7 linked regions of the Homo sapiens genome follow. The protein of the gene in region 5 interacts with the protein of the main gene of each other region in a biochemical or structural test. Each region holds a gene or a part of one and is shown on either strand. Other genes may lie near its edges. The genes, in order: PLA2G4B, CTTN, MAPK8, PKN1, CASP3, NDUFS1 and PARG.

Region 1 (3,398 bases), on a different chromosome or scaffold from region 5:
ACTCAGGGCCTCCCGTTGATCTGAGAGCTTGTGATCATGGGGCTGGGGAAAGATGCGTAGAACCTAAACCCACAGCGGCCTGGGTGCCCAGGGCCTTTCCCACCCTGCTGTCCAGCACCGAGCCCCAGCTCCAGCCCTTGCCCTGGCTCTGCCCCCAGGCCGCAGCCCCCGCACCTCATCATGCAGCAGCGCCTCGTTGATGAGGGCCCACAGGTTGGTGAAGCAGCTTGGGTAGCCCAAGCGGGCACGCTCGGCCAGCTCCTGCCGGTACCGCTGCAGCTGGCTGGGGGCCAGCACACCCAGCTTGTTCTTGGTCACCTGGGTCTTCAGCAACTCAGTGGGCCCTGCCAGGTCCTTCTGAGACCACTCTGGGTCCTCATAAAGGTTGGCCAAGGCCCTGGGAAAAGCCAAAGCCAAAGCCAGAGGGCTGTCACTGAAGGACCCCGTCTAGACCCCACGTGCCCCGGGCTTTCTAGGACAATGGCCTGGCAGGGACCTTCCCAGGGTCCCCTTGAGCACGTTTCTCCCTGGCACATTCATTCTCCCAGCCCTTCTAGTTTTCTCAGAGGCCTAGGAGAACCCTGGCACCAGCACCCCCTGCCACACAGGGTCCAGCATCAGCCTGCCCCCAGCTCACCAGGTGGAGCCCGAGGCCCCGGTGATGTAGGAGACGCAATCCAAGAGGCCCAGCTCCTTCAGGCCAGCCAGCTGCCCATACAGGGAAGTCATTGCCCGGATCCCACCACCAGTGGCCATAATAGCTACCACTGGGATCTGGAAAAGAAGAGAGCCAGGCCTGTAGAGGCCCTAGGGATGGGGAAGGCCAAGTCACAGGAAGAAGAGGTAGCAGGTCAAGTGGCCACCCAGCCCACAGCTAAGGCCTGATCACAGGTCTTGGGACCAGTTCTCAGTCAGCCCTGGGGGCCAGAAACAGCCTTTTGAGTGCCCAGCTCCTCCAGTCCTAAGGGCTCCAGGAAAAAATGGCCCAGGCAAGTTCTGAGCCTCATCTCCTTGCCCTCAGCCCCCGAGCCTGACGCTCACTTTCTGGAAGCCCCAGGGCCCGCCTCAGAATTTTCCCAAATTGCCATCACTCCCCCAGGAGACGGCCCAGGCTAATATGAACCTCCTGAAGCACCCTGGGCCAACAGGCCTCATACCAGATATCTGTCTCCCTCCTCAGACAGGCTAGGCTGAGAACCAAGAAACAGAGTAGGAAAGCCAGCCCTATGAGGTAGCTCCCATGTGGGCTCCAGGTGCCTCAAGCAACACTCTGCCTGTACCAAGTCCCTGCTAACACCAGGTGAGAGGAAGCAGGGTGGGGACAGGCAGCTACGAGCTCTGGTCTAGATCGGGGACAAGCAGCTCCAGTGTTCAGCACCAGGAGCTAGGCCCAAGCAAGCCCGGGGACACCCCATCCAGCCCAGCCCCCAAACCTCATCCTCCTGCAGGTCTCCGTCCAGCTGCAGGGCCTGCCTCAAGGCCGCGGCCACCACCTGCTTCCTCCTGCTCAGGAAGGCCTGCTCCTCTGCACAGGGCCCGAAGCCCAGTCGCACGGCCAGCTCCCTCAGTCTGGCCGGGGAAGGAAGAGACTGTGAGACAGCTCTCAACCCTCCCCAGAGAATGGAAAGCTGGGTCTGCCTCACCTGTAATACCTACTGCCCTCCCTCTTCTCCCCAACCCTCAATGCCACTCCCGTGTCACAAGACTGAAGTTTGACACCTGGGGAGAGTGTGTCCATGTGGACATGCTTGGGAATGCAGCAAAGCAGACTGGCAGGACCCAGAATGCCGTGGCCGAAAGAGGCTGCTTGGGGTCCCAGGTGCAGACAGGCCCCCAGGCAGGCCCCATACCATAGATCCCCCCCCTCCAAGTCTCGTGTTCTGTCCCTTACCCACGGAGTTCAAAGCACTTTGGGAGGCTGAGGCAGGCATATAACTTGAGGCCAGGACCAGCCTGGCCAATGTGGGGAAACCCCATCTCCACTAAAAATACAAAAATTAGTTGGGTGTGGTGGTGGGCACCTGTAATCCCAGCTACTCGGGAGGCTGAGGCAGGAGAATCGCTTGAACCCCAGAGGCGGAGGTTGCAGTGAGCCAAGATCACGCCATTGCACTCCAGCCTGGGCGACAGAGAGAGACTCCATCTCAAAAAAAAAAAAAAAAAGGGCAGGGGGCGGGGCAGAAAAGGACCAATAATCCTGTGTCTGTGAGGTGAGAAGCCACTCTCTCAAGACAGAGGGCCAGGGTGGGCGACAACTCTACGAAGATCATTTAAGGTCCAGCCATAACAGCTTCCACCCAAAAGGGCGCAATTTCCCCTCTTCTCTCCCTTGGTTTTCCTGCCCTCTCTGCGCCCCAAACCATGTTACCATTTTCCATCCTTGCCTCCCTGCGTTTTCCAGCCAAACATTTATCAAGTGCTCCCCGGGTGCCTGGCACTGGGCCGGTCACTCGCCCCTCTGACCATAGGTGCTAAGACTCCTCCCAGTACTCCTCCCAGTACTTCGTGCCCCCTCGAGCGCAAGCCTGAGCCCCTTCAGAGAGCATGAGGATGAGGGGCGGCTGTTTCTCCCCCTCACTCCTCCAGGCCTCCTCCAGCCCCGCACCCTGGTTGTTTTCCAGGGCCTTGCCCAGTCCCCAGCCAGGCCTCTCACCCTGCTTCTTTTTTCAGCTCCACTCTCATCAGGGGCTCCTGAAAACCGTGAAGGCCCCAGTCACAAAAGGTCGGCCACCTCCACCCAGCTCTGGTCCTCTTACCCTGATCCCCGGCGCACCACCCCCGCCCCGCCACCGTCTCCACAGGCGCCAGGCCTGAAGCAGGGATGCTCAGAGGACACTCCCCAAAGAGCCTGGCCCCAGCACCTGCTCAGGGTGTGACCCACGGAGAAGCGGGAAGCAGGCCCCTCCCTTTGTGGCCTGGGTCCCAGCCCCATCCAGGCGCCTTGCTTCCTTCCCTGGGAGGCCAGTACCTGGGACGTGGGGAAGACAAGCCTCACCACTTGACCAGAGGGCAGGGCACTCAGTGGCGCCTTTAGTTGCTCCTCGGGGGCATCCTGCAGGGGACAAAGAATGCAGACCTAAGAATCTTTACGCTTCCACTCCTAGCAAAGACCTCACCAAACTCCCGCCGGCAGCCATAGAGTTATGGGAGGGACGGGAAGGGGAGGCCAGCATGGGCCCACACATGCTGCCAGGGTGCCCACTCTGCCAGGTGGAGCAGAGGTCAGACTGGGAGGAGGTGCAGAGGGAGGGAGGAAGTTCTGGGGGCCCCACCTCGAGGGAGCGAGGCACACTACCTGCAGGCGAATACTCAGCTCCTGCTCCCAGCAGGCTGGGCAGTGGAAGCGGAAGGTGCCAGTGCCCACAGAGGCCTCCTGCGGACCCTCACAGGACCCAGGA
Region 2 (3,500 bases), on a different chromosome or scaffold from region 5:
AATGTCAGCCTGAGTCTCTTCTCACCCCTCCCCCTCTGGAAGCCCCTCCTTTCCCAGGTGGAAGTTTGGGGTTTGGAGGGGACTCTGTGCAGAGGCAGCCTGCTCTCGGGGCCTGCTTCTGCTTGGCCAGCCCAGCCCCGCTCACCCAAGCCCCTGGGCTGTGGAGAAGCGCTCCCAGAGAAAGATGCCAGAAGTGCACCCCTGGCAGGGGCGGAGCACGAGCCTGTGTCTGGGTGCTTTGGGTCTAGCCTGGGTGGCTTGCCACTGACAAGGACTTTCCTTGTGCTCAGCTGGATCAGGGGGGTTGTGAATAGAGCCTGAGGCCTACAGATGTGTGTGTGTGAAGTTACCAGGTGTGGTTCTGCAGCTGGGGCATCTGCAGTGTGGGGCAGGCCCAGCCTGTCTGGAAGCCTGGGCTTCTCCTATCCACCCCAGGCCCTGCCCCTGCAGGGCCACACAGGACGTGCTACTTTGGGTGTTTAACCTGTGGATGGCATCAGGTGACGTGGGAATTTACAACTGTCCTGTTGGGGTCAAGCAAGGCCATAGATGCCAGGAACCGTGCTAGGGTCTCAAGACCAGGGGTGGTTTTCTCTTCAAAAAGACAAGACAGCACTACCATTGTTCCCGTTAGAGCAAGGCCGCCTGCAGAGGGAGAGGAGGGAAGGGGTTTGGAGTGGACACCTGGGGTTCAGATCCTGCCTGGGCAGCTCCCTGGCCAGTGTGCCTGTGCCTGCCACCTCACCCTCAGACTCAGCGTCTGGCACTGGAGCCCACAGGCTGTCAGTGAGTTTCCTGTTGCTGCCGTAGTCACCACCACACACAGCACACAGCTAGTGTCTTATAGCTCTGGAGGTCAGAGGTCCTCAAAGATGTCAGCAGGGCTGTGTTCCTCCTGGTGGCCCCTCGGCCCTGTCTTCCCATCTCCAGCCTCTGCTTTTGTTGTCACCGCCCCTCCTCTGTCCCTCACACTCCTGCCTCCCTCCTCTCAGGACCTTGTGATTACATTGGGTCCACCCAGGCAGTCCAGAGTTCTCCCCATCACAGAACCCTTAGTTTCATCACATACACAGTCCCTCCCCATGGGGTCTGGGGACTGCGATGTCAGCAGCTTTGAGGGGCTATTATCCTACCCCAGTTCATCCTTTGGCCCCTAAAGCTTCATGTCCATCCCATGTGCAAACATACTCAGCCCATTTTAAGGTCCCCAAAGTCTCAACCCATTGCAGCATCAACTCAGACTCCCAAATCTGTGCCTAAACTATCTAATCGTGTGTGGGCGAGAATGAGCTGTGGCCCAGTCCCGGCACTGTCGCGTCACTGGCTGTGTGATCTCGGCCTCAGAGCACACCTGCCCCTCGAATCCTGCCTAGGTGCTGGTGGGATCTGAGGCTTGGTGCTCCAGCTCCCCTGCCCCTCGGATCCTGCCTGGGTGCTGGTGGGATCTGAGACTTGGTGCTCCAGCTCCCCTGCCCCTCGGATCCTGCTGGGGTGCTGGTGGGATCTGAGGCTTGGTGCTCCAGCTCAGCCTTGGTGTGGGTGTTTTCCACTCCTTTCCCCAGAGCATGCCTAGAGCTTGCACACGATCTTCTGAAACACGGCAGGCGTGACAGTGCAGAGTGTCATGGCAGCATTCTGATTGCTGTTTGTTTTCAATCACAGGAGCAAGCCAGAGCCAAAACGCAAACGCCCCCTGTGTCGCCCGCACCTCAGCCAACCGAGGAGAGGCTGCCCTCGAGCCCCGTCTATGAGGTTGGTGTCTTTGGTGTTTGAATGAGCGTGAGTGACTTACTGCCAGAGCCCAGGTCCTGTTTGTGGAGTGGAGGAAGCCCTTGCAGGCAGGCAGTGTGGCGTGGGTGTAGAGGGCATCGCTGCATTCCACGCCCGGAGAGGGGTGGGCCAGGAGCGCCTGGGGGGTGGGTGACATGCCTCAGTGCTGTCAGGGGATAGCTGTGCAGGCCCACATGCCATCCTTTCACCCCTCTGCAGCCTGTTGTAGTCTGGCCACTGTCACTGCAGTCCCTGCTGTAGTCACCTGCTATCAGATAATCAGATGGGGGTGTCTTCACCCCACTTGCTCTCTGCTGTGCAGGACGCCGCCTCACTCCCTAATGGCAGTGCTGCCCTCCTTCATCACTGAGCCCCTGCCTCCCGCACAATCTGCCTTCTATGCCTGCCCCATTCAGCTCTCCAGCCTTGCAGCCCCTCATGAGTGTGGCTGCAGACATGCTGTCCGGCCCCTCCCTGTGCTGCTGACCCCCTCTCATGGGTCCCCCAGTGTTCCGTCCCCATCCCTGAGTTACGGAGCCGCCTGCCGATGCCCCGCCCATCCCTGACTTTGGGTCTCCTGCTCCCCGCCAGCACCTCTGCGCTAACCACACCCTCTACCTGTAACCACCTCTCCTGTCCCCAGCCCTTGCCCTTTCTCCATCCCATGGCCATCATCCTGGTCTATGCATTCATCTCTGCTCGCCCAGGAGCCAGTCAGTTACAGGGGTCACACTCCAGACCATGGTAGTTCAGGAGCCCAGAGAGAGCCCTGGAGACAGGCCGGGTCTGGGATCTGGGCCTCGATGGCCGTGGCCTTGTCACCACCCGACTGTCCCTCCTTGGCTACGCTGCTGCCTGCTGCCTTTACCCTGCCGGGCCCTGGGGGGATGTGGTAAGTGAGGCCTTGCAGCTTGTCAGGAACCGGCCTCCCCCTCTAGTCCCTCCCCTTGGCAGCCAGCGCCATCTGCCTCAAGGAAGCTCCGACCCTGCCCCTCCCGTGCAGTTCAGCCCTTGTGTGGTTCCTGGTGCCTGTGCTGAGGGTGGAGTCGCTCTCCCTGCCCGATTACTCTCCCTGGCTAGCAGCTCTCCACCACTGGCTCTTCCCAGATCTCCTGGGTGCGCGGTTCTGAGCTGTCGGCATTGCTTTCTTTCAGTCACTGCCGGTGACATCAGGTGGACCCTGGTCAGAAACATTGATTAAAGCCACTGTCGGTGATAAGCAGTTCAGAATTTTCGCTGGGGCTCCGAAGCGGCAGTGGTTATAGATAGAGAGGTGTTCCACTGCGCACCTTTGTAGTTGAATGTGATTCTTTGGCGATGCCCTGTCTGTAGGCTCAGCTGCTCTGGAGCCACGTGGTGAAGCCGCTGTCAGGCAGGGCCAGGGTCGAGCAGCACAGGCAGGAGGGTGGCCGCTCGGCCCAAGGGTGCCTTGTGTGGCCTTGGAGATGAGGCCTAAAAAAAGAAATCAGCCAAATTAACCCAACAAAGACAGGCTCTACCCCCAGGCAACAGTGTGGGCAGGGGCGTGTCTCCTAACCTGCTGTGTGGGCGTGGTTATTGCAGGACTGGAGTGTCGGTGGTGAGGACCGGGTCATCATCGGGAAGGAAATGGCATGTGGGCACTCACCACCATGGTGAACACACCGGCAGGCCTGGCCTTCCTATACCGCGTCTGTTTTCTCAGTCCTGGCTGGGACTGAGAATTAGATGGCCCGTGGGTTTCTGCTGGC
Region 3 (3,500 bases), on a different chromosome or scaffold from region 5:
ATATTCAAATGCAGCAGACTCTATCCAATTTTATCATTTTGTCATTCTTCTAACTTTATCACGGGCTCTGCTAACCATGGGTTTCCCAAAGTTCAGAGAAAACCAATCTCTAAATCTCTTCAATTTCTAAGAAAGAATCAAATTCATGCTTAGCAAAATACATTTATAGATGGGTCACTTATTCATGTTTATACCTCCCCAGTCCCCTTTCCTTTCCCAGGATTTAGAGACAACTCTTAATAACAGGTCTTCTGCCTCTATTTTAAGATGAGGTAAAATGCAGGGGGCAGTGTAGGAGGGTGAGATGAAGGGGGAGTGATTTACTCAAAGTCACGCAGTTACAAAAGTGGTCAAAACACTGAAGGACAATAACACAAATGGAAGTAAACGGGACCTAAAAATTACCTGACCCACATGTCCCAGGGCACCTTTTGAAGAAATATTTGAAAACTTCCATGACTATCAAAGCATGATTAATTTCAGCCACATTCATAAAATAGAATAAAACTACATTAGATTTACAAATATTAAAAATTAACCCATTCTGTAGGCAAGGGTGAGGGCAAAGAGAGACTCCTATATAACATGGACGGAAGTGTACACTACTACCATTTCTTTGGAGAGTAATTTGGAAATAACTGAAAAATATCTTTGGCTCAGAACATCTCCTTCCAGGATTTTTCTTCCAGGCATGTTCTCATATGTGAACATGAATATTGCAGAGTTGTTTCTAACAGCAACAGACTGGACACAATTTAAATGGTCACCAAGAGGGAGATGGATATATAAAGTGTGACATATTCATACAGCAGAACACTAACCAGTTATTAAAGCAAGAGAGGCAGATACGTGAACTAAAAGAGAATAACCTTCCAGATATCTGATTATATCAACAAAGCACTCACGCCTATAATCCCAGCACTTTGGGAGGCCGAGGCGGGTGGATCACGAGGTCAGGAGATCGAGACCATCCTGGCTAACATGGTGAAACCCTGTCTCTACTAAAAATACAAAAAAATTAGCCGGGTGTGATGGCAGGCGCCTGTAGTCCCAGCTACTCAGGAGGCTGAGGCAGGAGAATGGCGTGAACCCGGGAGGCAGAGCTTGCAGTGAGCCGAGATCACACCACTGCACTCCAGCCTGGGTGACAGAGCGAGACTCCAACTCAAAAAAATATATAATAAATAAACAAAGCAAGTACATATAGCATACACCGTACACAACCATACGTGATTTTAAAAGGGTGGAAGAGGAGAGGTGGGAGACACTAAACACATTTGTGTATTCACAAACCATGGAAAAAAATATGAGACAGAGCACTAATGTGTCTGTGTCTGGGGTGGGAAACTTGGGAACTTAAGATTAAGTTAAGGAAGGAAGCAGACTTACTTTCTACTTATGTAAAAATATTAATATTACCACATTTCGGTTATGCATATTAAAGTCACAAATTTCTCTAACATGATAATAAATCACCATATAAAAACCAGAAGCTCCTTCACAGTTTTCCCTCTAAGAATCTGACGAATGTACCTTTCCACTCTTCTATTGTGTGTTCCCTTTCATCTAACTGCTTGTCAGGGATCTTTGGTGGTGGCTGAAAAACACAAGGCAATAATAACCAAGTCAGTATGCTGGGAGTATTTTAACTCTGTAGTTATTTGAAATATTAGCCACACAGATGACTTATAAAAATATATCATTAGATCAAGACTGATCAATCATCAACTTACTTATACAGACATAATAGTTTAGGAAGACTCCTTCATTGCAGGAAATAAAATGTTTAACTGTCTTTTTTCTTTTCTTCTAGCTCTTGAAATTGCCACATTTTATTTATATCACAGATCACAGAATTCTGTTTTCCTTTGGATACAGTAATTTGTTTTATACCTGAGTTAGGATGTTCCCCCAGAGCATTCAACATCCTAGTTCTCTGGTTAGGTATCCAGGCAAGATTGCAAAAAACAGTGGGAGGTAACTTTATTTTGTGTAGGAGGGGCTCGAATATGTTCATTAGTTTATTTGACGTAGTCTTCATGAAGAAACAGAAAAACATCATCATCATGTATCTACATTTTTATTTAAAATTAAAAGGTCTCCTCCAAACCTAACTGTCATTCTAACTCTAAGAATGCAATATGTTCTGTAAACATTAAGAAAATAACTTACAGCTTCTGCTTCAGAAGGATCATACCAGACATTGATGTACGGGTGTTGGAGAGCTTCATCTACAGAGATCCTTTTAGATGCATCTATTACCAGCATTTTGGATAACAAATCCCTTGCCTGACTGGCTGCAAACATAATGGTGTTAATGTACATATATTTGTAAAGATTCTCAAATTATTAATAACTTTCAGCAATTTGAGATTTTTTAAAAAGCATATGTTTTAAAAATATTACTGTAAAATTATCTTATACATATGATTAAAATATATAAGATTAAAGAAAAAAAAAACAAAAACCTCATTTTTTTCCCCACCATCCAGAGAAAACCTTGGGTTCATGTCCCATAAGAATATGAATACATATAAACACACAAACCCATACACACACACTACACACCCCAAATGGGATTAAATGTACATATTTGTAAAAAGTACCTTTAAGTTTGTTGTGTTCTGAGTCAGCTGGGAAAAGGACATCAGGGAAGAGTTTCTCAAAGCTATATCCAGCATATTTAGGTCTGTTTTCAACGTAAGTCCTTACTGTTGGTTGCAGTTTCTTCATGAATTCAGGACATGGTGTTCCAAGCTGTTCAATAACTTTATTCCACTGATCAATATCTAATATCAAGTAGCTAAGAAAAATACTCCATAACTAATGTTCAATACATTAGTCATATTCATATTACAAGAAAATAGAAATTTAAAAATTCCTAAGAAAGGATGTGGCAGTTATAAATTTTATATCTCACAGGCACCCTGCAAAAGGCAATGATTGTAGGTGGACAGAAATGATCAATAAATAAGCTTTATTAACCTTATTTATTGTGTGTTCAAACTAACTGATTTTACCTTAAAATGGAAGCTTAAACTCACAAATTCTAAATAAAATGATAAGCAACTAAGAATAATGACAATTACTATCCATAGTGGCTCTAACTGCAAACTGCACACAATGCTATAATAATATACAAAATTTTTCCTTTTCTGTCAATTTATCAGAAAACATGATTATATCTCCTAGACAATATTTCTAGAACACATCCTGTTTTACTGAGTTTTCTACACTAACAGAAAATAATCAGTTGTAATAAAAATAAAGGCTTCGATAAAAGTGGCATTTTCTTTTGCCATTCTTTGTTTAGCTTAGGTTTAAAAAAATTTTCTAAAGCTCTGACCCTTATAAAAAAGATTCAGTTTTTTGCTAAGTTGTAAGGTTAGGATTTCTTGGTCTCCTTTCCTCTAGTCTTTACACTCCAGGACCCTGAAGGCCAAGGCCTAAAACTCACTTATTGTAACCTTGTGAATATGCCTTTTCCCATTCTTCCTCCT
Region 4 (3,500 bases), on a different chromosome or scaffold from region 5:
GGAGAATTGCTTGAATCCGGGAGGCAGAGGTTGGAGTGAGCAGAGATCATGCTACTGCACTCCAGCCTGGGTGACAGAATGAGACTCCATCTCAAAACAAACAAACAAACAAAAAAACAAGAGTAACCATATGATCCAAAGCTACTTCTGGGCATATCCCCAAAAGAATTAAAAACAGGGCCTCGGACATTCCATAATGCATACATATTTCAAAACAACATGTTGTGCATGATAAATATATATAATTTTTATTTGTCAGTTTTAAAAATAGTGATAGAAAAATATTTAAAAAAAAAAAAAAGGGTCTCAGAGATATGTATACCTGTGTTCATAGCAGCATTATGAAAGCCAAAAATGGAAGCAACCCAGATCCACCAATAGATGAATGGGTAAACAAAACGTGGGCCAGCCATGCAATGGAACATTGCTCAGATTTAAAAAGGAAAGAAATCCTGCCAGGCGCAGTGGCTCATGCCTGTAATCCCAGCACTTTGGGAGGCCGAGGCAGGTGGATCACTTGAGGTCAGGGGTTCGAGACCAGCCTGGCCAACATGGTGAAACCCCATCTCTATTAAAAATACAAAAATTAGCCGGGTGTGGTGGCACATGCCTGTAATCCCAGCTACTCAGGAGGCTGAGGTAGGAAAACCGCTTGAGCCCAGGAGGCAGGCGTTGCAGTCAGCCAAGATCATGCCACCGCACTCCTGCCTGGGTGACAGAGTGAAACACTGTCTCAAAAAAAAAAAAAAAAAAAAGGAAAGGAATCCTGTCTTATCCTGCAACACGGATGAATCTTGAGGACATTAGTCTAAGTGAAATAAGCCAGTCCCCAAAAGACAAATATTGTATGATTCCAGTTATATGAGGTTCCTAGAGTAGTTAGATTCATAGAGACAGAAAGTAGAATGATGGATGCCAGGGAGTAGAGGGAGGGGGAATGGGGAGTTTATTATTTAATGTGGACAGAGTTTCAGTTTTGTAAGGTGAAAGTTCTGGAGATGGATGGTGGTAATGGTTGCACAGCAATGTGAATGTACTTAATGCCACTGAACTGGATGGACACTTTAAAGTGATTATGATGGTAAATTTTATGTTACATGTATTTTACCATAATTTTTTTTTTCTTGAGACAGATTCTCCTCTGCTGCCCAGGCTGGAGTGCAGTGGCACCGTCTCAGCTCACTGCAACCTCTGCCTCCTCGGTTTGAGCGATTCTCTTGCCTCAGCCAACCCAAATAGCTGGTGGGATTACAGGCGTGCGCCACCACACCCGGCTAATTTTTGTATTTTTATGGAGATGGGGTTTCACCATGTTGGCCATAATTTTTTTAAAAGAAAATTTGATTCGTAATCTCATGGCAAAAAAGGAAAAAGAAAGAAAATTAATACGTATGTACAAAAAAAAAAGGGAGTGTGGAGAAGAGTAACAGGAGAGCAGACACCCATATTACCACCACCTGCGTTAGGAAATAGAATATGGCAGCCAGGTGCCACGGCTCATGCCTGGAATCCCAGCATTTTGGTATTTGTAGGAGGATCACTTGAACCCAGGAGTTCAAGACCAGCCTGGGCAACATAGCAAGACCTTGTCTTTACAAATAATTTAAAAATTGGGGCATATGGCCAGGTGTGGTGGCTCACGCCTGTAATCCCAGCACTTTGGGAGGCCGAAGCGGGTGGATCACAAGGTCAGGAGATCGAGACCATCCTGGCTAACACAGTGAAACCCCAACTCTACTAAAAATACAAACAATTAGCCAGGCGTGGTGGTGGGCGCCTGTAGTCCCAGCTACTCGGGAGGCTGAGGCAGGAGAGTGGCATGAACCTGGGAGGCAGAGCTTGCAGTGAGCCGAGATCGCGCCACTGCACTCCAGCCTGGGTGACAGAGCAAGACTCTGTCTCAAAAAAAAAAAAAATTGGGGGTACATGTCATCAGGCCCTCCTGAATCTGTGTCACAGAAAAAAAAACTAAAGGGAAAAAAAGAGAAGACAAGCCAACCAAAAATTAACCAGGCGTGGGCATGGTGGCTTGTGCCTGCGGTCCCAGCTACTTGGGAGGCTGAAGTGGGAGGATTGCTTGAGCGCAGGAGGTCAAGGCTACAGTGAGCTGTGATTGCACCACTGCATTCCAGCCTGGGCAACTGAGCGAGACCCCATCTTAAAAAAAAAAAAAAAGGAAAAGAAATAGAATATTTCCAGCTCTCCAGAAGCCCCCTCTTGTCTCCTCCACAATTCCATCTCCTTCCTCTGCCATAGAGGTGGCTACTCTCCCGACTTTTATCATTTCCTTGCTATAATTTGTAGTTGTAGAACCCCATGTTTGCATCCCCAAAAACTTTTGTTTAATTTTGCCTGGTATTAGAACTTTATATTGACAGGCTCATACAGACTATTCTATCACATGGCTTCTTTCATTCAACATTGTTTAGGGGCTAGGCATAGTGGCTCATGCCTGTAATCCCAGCACTTTGAGAGGCCGAGGTGGAGGGATTGCTTGAGCCAAGGAATTTGAACCCAGCCTGGGCAACATGGTGAAACCCCACCCTACAAAAAAATGCAAAAAACAAAACCAAACTAAAAAAAGCATTGTTTTGGTAGACTCATCCATTTTGTTGTGACAAGCTATAGTTAATTCATATTTATTCCTGTTTAGTAATCCATTATGTTAGACTGAGCCATATCGAATTGCCTCTTTCTGAAAGCAAAAAAATAGTTAAATATCAGCAATTTCGTACTTCAGCTACTAAGATGGTATAGCAGTTTTAAAATATTAATTCTCCTGTTAATGGACTGTGGGATGCCTCTATTTTGGACTGTTACATACACTTTATATAAATGCATCTCCTGATGTATACCCACATGCATTTGGCTAGGGTAAATCCTCAGGAGTGCCTGGGCGCGGTGGCTCACGCCTGTAATCCCAGCACTTTGAGAAGCCAAGACCAGTGATCACTTGAGGTCAGGAGTTCAAGACCATCCTGGCCAACGTGGCAAAACCCCATCTCTACTAAAAACACAAAAATTAGCTGGGCATGGTGGTGTGCGCCTGTAGTCTGAGCTACTTTGGAAGCTGAGGCACGAGAATTGTTTGAACCCAGAAGGTGGAAGTTGCAGTGAGCCGAGATTGTGCCACTGCACTCCATCCTGGGTGACAGAGAGAGACTCTGGCTCAAAAAATAAATGAATAAATAAATCCTTAGGAGTATGTGGCTGGGACTTCCATGTAGAATAAAATTGAATTTGGATCCCTGCCTCACATCACACCATGTAAAAAAATCAACTGGATTAAAGGCTTCAATGTCAAATGCAAAACTTTACAGTGGGAGAAAAGTTATGGAGGGGAGGATTCATTTTAAAAAGATAGCAGACAGCTAGGCCTGGTGGCTCATGCCTGTAATCCCAGATACTTGGGAGGCTGAGGCAGGAGAATATCACTTGAGGCCAGGAGTTTGAGACCAGCCTGGGCAACATAACAAGACTCATCTCTACTGAAAAAAAAA
Region 5 (3,500 bases):
TAATGCTTTTATATATTAATAAATTACTAATTTGTTTAGCTCATGGGGTTTAAGGAATAATTTATGAATTGTGATAAATATTGTGCTTTGAGTTATATTTGCATTTTGTTGATTTCCCATCATTTCAGGGTAATTTTTAAGATTTTTACTCTTACCTCAAAGGATAAAATATTTCACAAAGTTAATAAGTAATTTTTAAATTATAAAGGTATTTGATGAAATTTTGAAGAATTTAGAGGAAAATGTAAAACATGGAAGTTAAAAGCCTGAACTCTGAAGTCCAACAGATGCTTTCCTTCCTTCTTGGCTGTGACACAATATTTGCATAACCTTTAGCACATTACTTAGCCTCACGTCAGGTCATTTTCTCATCTGTATAACTGTTGATGTGAAATTGAAATGAAGACAGCCTGGTTTATAACATTCAACAAGTGTTAACTGTTACTGTGAGTTATAAAAATTGCACTAATATAAACAGAAGGCGTGGTCATTTCTACCTTTGTAAAGCTATTATTTGATTTCTAAACAGAAAGATCATACATGGAAGCGAATCAATGGACTCTGGAATATCCCTGGACAACAGTTATAAAATGGATTATCCTGAGATGGGTTTATGTATAATAATTAATAATAAGAATTTTCATAAAAGCACTGGTATGTGTCTTACATAATTTTTAATCCTTTTCAAATGTTTGTGCCATTTACATTTGATATAATATTAAAAGCAGTATTATTGAGGTATTAGACAGTAAACCGTGACACAGACTAGCTGTGAAGTAGAGATTGGGCAGGACCTACAGGTCCTCTGATACACTGTGAACGCGTCACTCTTCTGCCCAACTTCATAGCCTCCTCTTGCTGGCCTCCTATCTGTATGCTTGGTTGCCTCTGCCCTGACTTCTCTGTAGCCCTTGCTTCTTTTTCTTCTTTCTGCTTCCTCTTTGATCCCAATGGAAGGTTCTCAAAAAAACAGTTAAGTGGTAGTATTTATTTTTTCCCCAGAAACTGCAAGAGATATCACAAGCATTGCCTTATTTAATTTATGACAACCTGGAAAGTAACGATGAGATTCTGAAAGGTTAAAGACCTCGCGCAGTCACACAGTATGGCGGCAGAGCTAGGTCTGTGTGGCTCCAAAGCCCAAGCTCTGAATCCATCTTCTGTTCTGCTTCACTTCCTTGTATCCTCATGTGCTCTGTTGCCTGTCTTCCCTTACCCTACGAAGCTCCCCATCTTAGAGAGACCTTTCTTTTACTCTGTTCCTTTTGATTCCTTTGATATTTTGTCTCCTTCCCTTCTTCCTTAAATTTTGAATACATGTAGTTTAAGCTTGTACTCTTCATTTGTTTCCATTCCTTCTTGAGTCTTTTTCCATTTTCTGTCTCTACTACTAAAACTGCTTGCTTTAAATTTACCATGGCCTTGCCACCAGATCCCCCTCTCGATTTCTGTACTATGTACAACTTGAATGTAGTACTACATTTGAGAATGTTTTTTTAGAAATATAGATAATAAAATCCTTCACAGTGCCAAAAAAGCTAATTAATATTTGGTGTATTGTTATTTTTTCTTGGCAGTTCTTTTTAAAGCTTGATTTTATTCATAACGTATAAGCAATGTTGTCTTCTGCTTGTTTCACTTAAAGGAATAGCATTTTTCATATTGCTGCATAATTTTCATATCTGTTATAATGATTATATAATACTGCATCCCCAAAACTACCATTCACTTAATTTGAATAATTTACTGTATGAATGAACATTATGGCTGTTTCCCTTTTAAATTGATGCTATGATAATTCTTTGAATTGGCCTATTAATCATATTAGAGTTAATTTTTAATTAGAGAAGCTGTAGTAGATCTAAGGTGGGCCAGTACCTATCAGAGTGGTGGTGGAAATGGAAGGAAGCCAGATTACACTGGGAAGATAGCAGGGTTTGTGTCAGATTAATTATAAGGAGTGAGAAGAGAATAGTTGAAAATGGAGCTCTAAATGGCATCAGTTTTATTGCTTTTGGCTATAAGTTGAGATGCCACCTTCAACCATTAACTTAAAAACACAACACCTTGTTTACTTTTGCTTTACGCATATTTGAAAATTTACTTCTAGATATTCTGCCTCACATTTCTAGTTAGGATACCTCCTTCCTATAGAATTTTGCACTGTTGGCTCTATTGTTTCAAAAACCAAAAACAAGCATATTATTCCACTACCACCAGCACCTCCCCCCACATATTTAGACCAGCAGTCTGGGTTTTGCCCAGTGAGCTCCTTTCCTACTTTGCAATGTAAAGGTCAGGTTCTCATGAGATCTCTGGCAGGCTGGTGTTGGGCCAGGCGCCATGGCTCACACATGTAATCCCAACACTTTGGGAGGCCAAGGCAGGAGGATCCTTGAGCACCAAAGTTCAAGATCAGTCTGGGCAACACAGGGAAATCCCATCTCTACAAAACAGAAAAAAGGTAGCAGGGTGTGGTGGTGCGCACCTGTAGTCCCAGCTACTCGGGAGGCTGAGGTGGGAAGATAGCTTGAATCTGGGAGGTTGAGGCTGCAGTGAGCTGTGGTTGCTGTACTCTAGCCTGGGCCACAGAGCAAGATCCTGTCTAAAAAATAAAAATAAATAAAAATTAAAAGGCAGCCAACACATCAGCACCAGAAGCCAGTGACCTTGTCACACAGCTGAGATAATCAACAACATTTTGGAGATACATGTAGACTTTCTGTATTTAATCTTCATACCCATCAAATTTACTCAATTCTGAGGGATGTTTCCCACCAAGATTTAGCATTTTGAAATCTGAGTGCATCATGCAGTCAATCTGTACGTTAATGTGGAAGGTTCTCTAAAGGAGTGGTAGAAAGCCCAGGAGCCCTGGATACAGGCCCAGCATAGCTTTGTCACTTTGGACTGGTTTGTTAACTCTGCTACATGTCCCACATCTGCACAAGTGAAACTAGTAATAATATGACTCTCATGGTGATTGGAAGGATTAGAGATTAGCCATAGCAGAATACCTGATGAACAGTAATAATGTTTGGGGGTTTTCCTTGAAGGCACTATAAATGTTGTAATGCTATCTTAAAATTGTTGGGAAGTTAGAGTCAGAGAAACGCATTTCCTCTGAGTGTGACAGATGTGTGTATGTATTATAGGATCGTATTGTTTTCTAGTCTTATTTTTTTAAACTGATGATTTTCCCATGGCAACATTTTATCTGTGAAAATGACAACATAGTATATCCCATTATATAAGTTAGTATAGCTTGTCTAACCAAACCCTTATTGTTAGACATTTGTGTTTTTCACTACCTAAACCGCTGTGAAAGACATCATTTTGGCTATAACACTGATGAGCTTATATTATGAAGTATCTTATAAGCTACAAAATTGAAGAAATTTTGTTCACCATGTTCAAAATAGTTAGAATTCTCTTACCATTTAAAAGGAAGAATTTATTGTGGACTTCTGAATTGCTGAGTAGTTAATTTCATTTCAAAG
Region 6 (3,500 bases), on a different chromosome or scaffold from region 5:
ATTACTTGAGGTCAGGAGTTTGAGACCATCCTGGCCAATATGGCGAAACCCTGTCTCTACTAAAAATACAAAAATTAGCGGGCGTGGTGGTGAGTTCCTGTAATCCCAGCTACTCGGAAGGCTGAGGCAGGAGAATCGCTTGAACCGGGGAGGTGGAGGTTGTAGTGAGCCAAGATGGCGCCACTGCACTCCAGCCTGGGTGACAGGGCAAGACTCCCTCTCAAAAAAAAAAAAAAAAAAAGAAGAAGAAAGAAGTTTCAGTTTAAACTACTCTGCTATCAAAAGTAGACAACCATAAGTTTGCATCCAGAGCAATACAGAGGAATAATAAGGAATGAAAAATTTTAGGTTTGTAGTTAGAGTCAATTCATCCATTATCATCTGCTATAATAAACTGTTAATCTGTTTTTCGCTTCAATATCTTTGATGGTCAGTTCGAACAACTGCCACAGCAGCAAGCAACTTGATTGAAGTATTTGTTGATGGTCAGTCTGTCATGGTGGAACCGGGAACGACCGTCCTCCAAGTAGGCATACATTCTAACTATTTTGTGTGTGTGTTCTGATTTTTTTAAAAATACTAATTTATTTCCTTTATACTGATTATTAGTAAATAATTCTTTAAAATAACTATACACAGCAAAGTTATATTAAAATTATTTCATTTTAAATCTTGGCACTTCAAAGTGAGCTATCATATATTTGTTTGTGGCATTTTTAGTGAATTATGGTAGTTCTTTTGTTTCACTTTTCATTCCAAATGAATACCCATTAAGAAATTTGAAGTCCGAGCGCAGTGGCTCATGCCTGTAATCCCAGCACTTTGGGAGGCCGAGGCGGGCGGATCATTCAGGAGTTCTAGACCAGCCTGGCCAGCACTGTGAAACCCCTTCTCTACTAAAAATACAAAAAATTAGCTGCGCATCGTGGCGCGCACCTGTAATCCCAGCTACTCGAGAGGCTGAGGCAGGAGAATTGCTTGAACCCAGGAGGCGGAGGTTGCAGTGAGCCGAGATTGTGCCACTGCACTCCAGCCTGGGCAACAGAGCAAGACTCTGTCTCAAAAAAAAAGAAAAGAAATTTGAAGTAACTTAAATTAGTTACTATAGGTAAGTTTGTGAAAAAATAACCTCCATTTGTTGTGGGCCTGCTTAATGCTTTTCATTTTCATATAACCTTTCTGTGGTTAGTAATATTCATAGGAATATATCCTACAAAGCAGGTAAATGGAGGGTAGCATGTGCTTACATTCATGCTCTAAATATTTCTTCATATTCCTCCAGAAATAATAAATTGGTCATAGAGAAGTCATGCTTCACTCCATTTGTAAGTTGTCACAGATCTAAATGTTCTTTGTTCATTTTAGCAGTCATTTCTAGACTATCTGCCAGTCACAGACATGAAAGCACAAAATATGATATAAATGTATGTTCAAGGTACAGTGAAAAGTTGTGGCAGGGATAGGAGGTAGTAGAAAGAGGTATTGGGTGCCTCAGGTCATCCCTGAGGAGGTGTTAAAGGATGAACAGGTGTGTTCATATTGTGAACAAGAACGACATGCTTGCATTTCCTATGGAAAAAGTTAAGGCAGATAGCTTGTCATATTTTGAAAGCTTCAAATAGTTTAATATTGATGAAACATAAGGTATAAGTAGAAGATGAGATCACAGGAAATCAAGTTATTGAGGAAGGGAAGGTCCAGTCATGAAATACAGTATCTGCTATGCAGAAGAGCTTATATTTTGATCCATCAGGAGTTTTGTTGCCTATTTAAACAGGGTGACAGCGACTGTAGAGGATGATCATTTGGAGAATAGCAAGACTGGAATAAGAGACAAGGAAAAAGCATTTTGTATTATTGGGACAGGATACTACAAAAGCCCTAAAATAGATAGTGTCAATGGGAATGAAAACAAGAGAGTAGATTCAAGGGAGAATGAAATGTAGACAGGCCTTCAGGAATGATGAAGACCCGAGGGATTTTTTCCCCCGTCGTACAGAACTTCCCAATATTGCTTTAACAGTGAGAAAAAAAAAACACAAAAGAAGTTTCAGTAGAGCCACAGACAAATAGTTCTTTAGAACTCAAAGAGACCGGAGGAATTCTTGTGGTTTTCTGCATTTGTTAGGTTATTTTGGAGTGTATAGAGGGGAGAGAAATCATTTGAATTTAAGCTGTCTGTGGAACATACACATGCAAATACCTGTAAATCTGAAGCTTGGAGAAGTGGAGGTCTAACATGGCTGCAGATTAAGGTTTGGACATAATCAGCATAAGGAATGTCAGCTAGGATGAAGGCTGGGACACTATCTGTCTTTTTCACTACTATACCTGCATCCTGCACAAAGGAAAGACTCAACACATTTTTGCTAACTAAATAGTTTAAACACTGGAAATTGATGAGATTGCTTTAGAATGAAGGCTGAGGATGAGGAACTAACTCTAGAGGAAATTTGAACATGTTTATAGACTAAAAGGAGGAAGAAATTGCAGAGCAGGGTAGGTGATAATTGGCAGAGCAGGGATAATCCCCCTTACTGGGCAAACAGAAACTGGGAAAACCTTCAGCCACAGTGGGAGGTGAGTCCTGGGTAGCATATAGGAGCCAAAGACAGATAGCCAGCTAGATAATGTGTAGTGAAATCTCTAATCCAAAGGAGGGGAGCGAGGCAAAGAAGAAGTCCAGGTATGAAACCACTGGGGACATTGTGGACAATGGTTCAAAATGGATGTGGGAAGTCAAGTCTTCAGCACAGTGGAAGGATACTTTATCCAGTTTCTTCCACATAAGGTGAAGTCACGCCAAGGATCCTGAGATCCTCTGAGGCAGCTTCAGAGGAGACGGGTTAGAATCAAAGGCAAAGAAAGGGACTGAAATAAGAATGAATTAAGATAGATAGATAGATAGATAGATAGATAGAAGTAATAAGATGCTGTATGTGTGTGTTTCAGCAATAACAGCAGTGAAGTCAGGTTATTCTAATGCTTTTTTTTTTTTTTTTTTTTTTTTTACTTCTAGGCTTGTGAGAAGGTTGGCATGCAGATCCCTCGATTCTGTTATCATGAAAGGTTGTCTGTTGCTGGAAACTGCAGGATGTGCCTTGTTGAAATTGAGAAAGCCCCTAAGGTACTTGATACCTAAAATTCTACACCATGCTGTAGAAGGTAGAAAACTTTAAATCTTGCAGCAAACTTTATTTAGAATCAATATCGTAGTGGAGAACCTAGCCCTCTTTACTTCTATCTATAAATTTAATTCTTTTGTACAATTGATTCTCTTCATTTCAAAACTGGAAACACATAGATAGAAGTGCTTTACAAACACATGTCATATAATTGTAACATATCTAGAAATTAAAGGTGATTTATAGTTGTCAGTATTTCCAAATGGCTGTATAATATATAACCAGGATGTAGAGTTGCCAAGTAGCACATTAAAAGTGCTGACGCCCTGCCATTTTTAGTAGAGAAAAGGGTTGCAGGGAAGAAGTTCACTTTCA
Region 7 (3,500 bases), on a different chromosome or scaffold from region 5:
GATGTTGGACTTAGTAGACAAAGAATTTACATGAGCTATTTAAAATATACTGAAACAACTAAAGAAAACTATGTCTAAAAAACTAAAGTATAAGAATGATGCCTCTCAAATAGAGAATATTAATAAATAAAGGGATAGAAATTATAAAAAATAAACAGAAATTTGTAATTGAAAAGTACAATAACTGAAATAAAAAATTCACCAGTGAGATTAAAAGCAGTTTAGAGCAAGCAGAAAAAACAACCAGTGAACTTGAAGACAGGGCAATTGAGACTGAGCCTCAGGAACAAGAAGAATAAAGAATGAAGAAAAATAAACAGAGCTTCTGAGACCTGTGGAACATCAAGTGAATCAACAAACACGTAATTTGGGAGTCCCAGAAGATGAGGAAAGGGGAAGAACAAACATTTGAAGAAATAATGGCCCAACATTTACCAAATATAACAAACATTAGAGAGGTTCAAAAAACTTCAAGTAGGATAAAGTCAAAGAGATCTGCATGTAGACACACCATATTCAAACCATTGAAAGTCAAAGAGAATCTTAAAAGCAAAACATAAGAAAATATACTCTTCTGAAGGTTGTCTACAAATCTATCTGAGGCACAGTGTGGCTTCAAGATTAGACTTTGGAGTCGGTTTTGTCATGTATGTCTTTGGAGGTAATGCGGTTGGGTACACATTTTATATAACTCATGGGGAGGGTTTTTCTCCTATTATAATTTTTGGGAATAACAATAAACTAAATTCTACAACCCAGGTGAGTGTTTAGACCCCGAAACTCATCTCCAAGCAGTAACAGATTCTAAGTGGAAATAAAAAATCCACTTTTTCAGGAAAAAAAAATAGTACCAGCAACTCATGGTGCATTAACGGCACTTATGTGGGAATATTCTTTTACGTACTTGAATAAAAGACTCAACTTACATATGGTGCCTGATTAAGAGTTTCTTAAGAGATATGAGGTAATCATCATTTTTCTTGATAGCTTATTCAAAGAAAATACTGTTACATAGTGATCTCAGTCTGAAGAAACAAAAAAAAATTAAATCTCTATAACAGACCTAAAGCATACACGTGACTAAATTTCCCCCCTCCTCCTCCCATATTAGCGTAAAGAAATCAAGAAGGACAAGAAGAAACACCAAGATAATCAGACTTTTTTTTTTTTGAGATGGAGTCTTGCTCTGTCGCCCAGGCTGCAGTACAGTGGCGCGATCTCAGCTCACTGCAACCTCTGCCTCCCGGGTTCAAGTGATTATCCTGCCTCAGCCTCCTGAGTAGCTGGGATTACAGGCACCCACCACCGTGCCTGGCTAATTTTTGTATTTTTAGTAGAGACGGGGTTTCATCATGTTGGCCAGGCTGGTCTTGAACTCCTGACCTCAGGCCATCTGTCTGCCTTGGCCTCCCAAAGCGCTAGGATTACAGGCATGAACTATCGCGCCTGGCCATGATAACTGAACTTTTTCTTTTAGGATTCAAAATAGGGTAAACAAAAGGTTACTGATTTCTCTAAATACTGTTCCTGTGCTTCTTATATTTACACAATGTCTTCATACTAAAGTACAAGAAACCACTTGAAAATTATTTTTAATAGAAACAAATCACTCTCAAATGGAAGAATTACAACAGAATACATACTAGAGGCATATCACTATGTTCTTCTTAAGAGCATTATTATGTCATAAAATTTCAAACTGCCAAGCGTGGTGGCTCACGCCTGTAATCCCAGCAATTTGGGAGGCCGAGGCGGGCGGATCACCTGAGGTCAGGAGTTCGAGACCAGCCTGACCAATATGGAGAAACCCTGTCTCTACTAAAAATACAAAATTAGCCGGGTGTGGTGACGCATGCCTGTAATCCCAGCTACTCGGGAGGCTGAGGCAGGAGAATCGCTTGAACCTGGGAGGAGGAGGTTTCGGTGAGCCGAGATTGCACCATTGCACTCCAGCCTGGGCAACAACAGCAAACCTCTGTCTCAAAAAAAAAAAAAAAAAAAAAAAAATTCAAACTGTGGGGTAACTGAATAGTTTTTAATCCCTGTTCCTCAGATAAAGATGCCACGAAAGAAAGAAAAGGTAAAAATAAGATGTCTTACTTAAGATTAGGAAAATAAGGCTGTAATAATTTCAAAAACTAAGTATAAATTAATGGATAAAAATATTGGGACTGATGCCCATGGAAGATAAAAGCTATACTGGGTAGTCTCTAGTCTTCATGACAGATATTCACAGATGGGGAAGACTACCCCATTTTCCAGGCTTCCCAAAACTAACCTGTGATAATTAGACATTCATTGTGATCCAGCACCTCAGTGAAGAGCCGTGAAATAATCAACTCAGGATTGATTAAAAAGCGGATTTCTTCTTGCACAAGTCCTGCACTGGTTACACCACCTCCAACAAAACGATTTGCAAAATCCACCTGTTGGGGAAATGTGACATATTAAATAATGGTCAAAAATACCTACACATATGATCAAGAAGCACATAGTCTCTAAGCTCTCATCTTTTCCTCTCCCATGAAAATCAATCCCCAAATAAGTAATCTTCCCAGGAAGGGCAGATTTTGGTTGCTTAAGCTCTTTCCACCTCACTGCAGTTAACATCTCTGCACATTTTTCTGGATCCCAGAACCAGAGAAGCAATCTGGAAAATGGAGCTTTTAGGCAAAATATTATGTATCATACAGACTCTTGTTTATAAACCTATTTGTGTCTCATGGGCCACAAATCAAGGGAGGTCTTTATCTGGGAAGGTTTCAAAGTCATTCTCCCCCATTCACTACTCAACTTCCCTTTATGTATTTCACGTGACTTTAATATAATTAAACTTTTCTTATGTAATATGGTAACCAAACACTTGCCCTAAAGAACTGAAAAGTTTAGTAATCAACTTTTTGGGTAACCTTTTCCAACTTTATTGTAAGAATAAAGAGATCGAATTTTTGTCCTTCTAAATTCAACCCCAAACCCCAAACTACATGAACATTACAAACTACTTTTTAAAAATATAACTAAGGAAAAAAGGAAGAAAGAAAACCCAGTATAGCAACAAAGATTCAATTAAAGTAATATTTCCAATTAGGTTGGAAACTCTTAAGCTTTATGTGGAGTAGTATGATGGGATCCCCAAATGCCTACTAATAAAGAAGAATTACACAATCCTCCAGAGAAAGCAAACTCAACTTGCTGGCATTATTTCCGTTTGTCCAGTGTGTCCAGCACTATGCCAGCCTCATGAAGCAGTATGTAAGAAATAGCAACCATCTTTTCCTTAGTGAGACTATCTGAGGAGTTAGATCACACACACACACACACACACACACACACACACACACACAACTTGTGTATATACATAGTCATACACACAAGTAAAATAGGATTTACTAAATACCATGAGGCTTATATTCTTTCAAACTATTTTAAAATATACGATTTCTTAAAACTTCAGTGTTCTCTAAAGCAACTGATACTAAATGACAATCTGAAGCCTATTT

Evidence for each region.
Region 1: of the proteins of CASP3 (region 5) and PLA2G4B, one has a biochemical effect on the other in vitro, tested with the Homo sapiens proteins (one study listed by BioGRID).
Region 2: of the proteins of CASP3 (region 5) and CTTN, one has a biochemical effect on the other in vitro, tested with the Homo sapiens proteins (one study listed by BioGRID).
Region 3: of the proteins of CASP3 (region 5) and MAPK8, one has a biochemical effect on the other in vitro, tested with the Homo sapiens proteins (one study listed by BioGRID).
Region 4: of the proteins of CASP3 (region 5) and PKN1, one has a biochemical effect on the other in vitro, tested with the Homo sapiens proteins (one study listed by BioGRID).
Region 6: of the proteins of CASP3 (region 5) and NDUFS1, one has a biochemical effect on the other in vitro, tested with the Homo sapiens proteins (one study listed by BioGRID).
Region 7: of the proteins of CASP3 (region 5) and PARG, one has a biochemical effect on the other in vitro, tested with the Homo sapiens proteins (one study listed by BioGRID).

What each region holds. Positions count from the first base shown.
Region 1 is NC_000015.10:41,841,847-41,845,244, reverse strand, and holds part of PLA2G4B (cytosolic phospholipase A2 beta), read right to left. Parts: coding exon 3,296-3,398; intron 3,053-3,295; coding exon 2,969-3,052; intron 2,692-2,968; coding exon 2,654-2,691; intron 1,570-2,653; coding exon 1,434-1,569; intron 775-1,433; coding exon 638-774; intron 398-637; coding exon 175-397; intron 43-174; coding exon 1-42. Other genes in the region: JMJD7-PLA2G4B protein, read right to left, coding at 1-42, 175-397, 638-774, 1,434-1,569, 2,654-2,691, 2,969-3,052, 3,296-3,398. UniProt on the Homo sapiens protein: Calcium-dependent phospholipase A1 and A2 and lysophospholipase that may play a role in membrane phospholipid remodeling.
Region 2 is NC_000011.10:70,429,529-70,433,028, forward strand, and holds part of CTTN (src substrate cortactin), read left to right. Parts: intron 1-1,662; coding exon 1,663-1,752; intron 1,753-3,500.
Region 3 is NC_000010.11:48,425,177-48,428,676, reverse strand, and holds part of MAPK8 (mitogen-activated protein kinase 8), read right to left. Parts: intron 2,790-3,500; coding exon 2,607-2,789; intron 2,298-2,606; coding exon 2,173-2,297; intron 1,598-2,172; coding exon 1,534-1,597; intron 1-1,533. UniProt on the Homo sapiens protein: Serine/threonine-protein kinase involved in various processes such as cell proliferation, differentiation, migration, transformation and programmed cell death.
Region 4 is NC_000019.10:14,453,806-14,457,305, forward strand, and holds part of PKN1 (serine/threonine-protein kinase N1), read left to right. Parts: intron 1-3,500. UniProt on the Homo sapiens protein: PKC-related serine/threonine-protein kinase involved in various processes such as regulation of the intermediate filaments of the actin cytoskeleton, cell migration, tumor cell invasion and transcription regulation.
Region 5 is NC_000004.12:184,632,448-184,635,947, reverse strand, and holds part of CASP3 (caspase-3 isoform a preproprotein), read left to right. Parts: intron 1-529; coding exon 530-654; intron 655-3,500. UniProt on the Homo sapiens protein: Thiol protease that acts as a major effector caspase involved in the execution phase of apoptosis. Following cleavage and activation by initiator caspases (CASP8, CASP9 and/or CASP10), mediates execution of apoptosis by catalyzing cleavage of many proteins.
Region 6 is NC_000002.12:206,149,445-206,152,944, reverse strand, and holds part of NDUFS1 (NADH-ubiquinone oxidoreductase 75 kDa subunit, mitochondrial isoform 1 precursor), read left to right. Parts: intron 1-434; coding exon 435-526; intron 527-3,019; coding exon 3,020-3,127; intron 3,128-3,500.
Region 7 is NC_000010.11:49,855,028-49,858,527, forward strand, and holds part of PARG (poly(ADP-ribose) glycohydrolase), read right to left. Parts: intron 2,427-3,500; coding exon 2,279-2,426; intron 1-2,278. UniProt on the Homo sapiens protein: Poly(ADP-ribose) glycohydrolase that degrades poly(ADP-ribose) by hydrolyzing the ribose-ribose bonds present in poly(ADP-ribose). PARG acts both as an endo- and exoglycosidase, releasing poly(ADP-ribose) of different length as well as ADP-ribose monomers.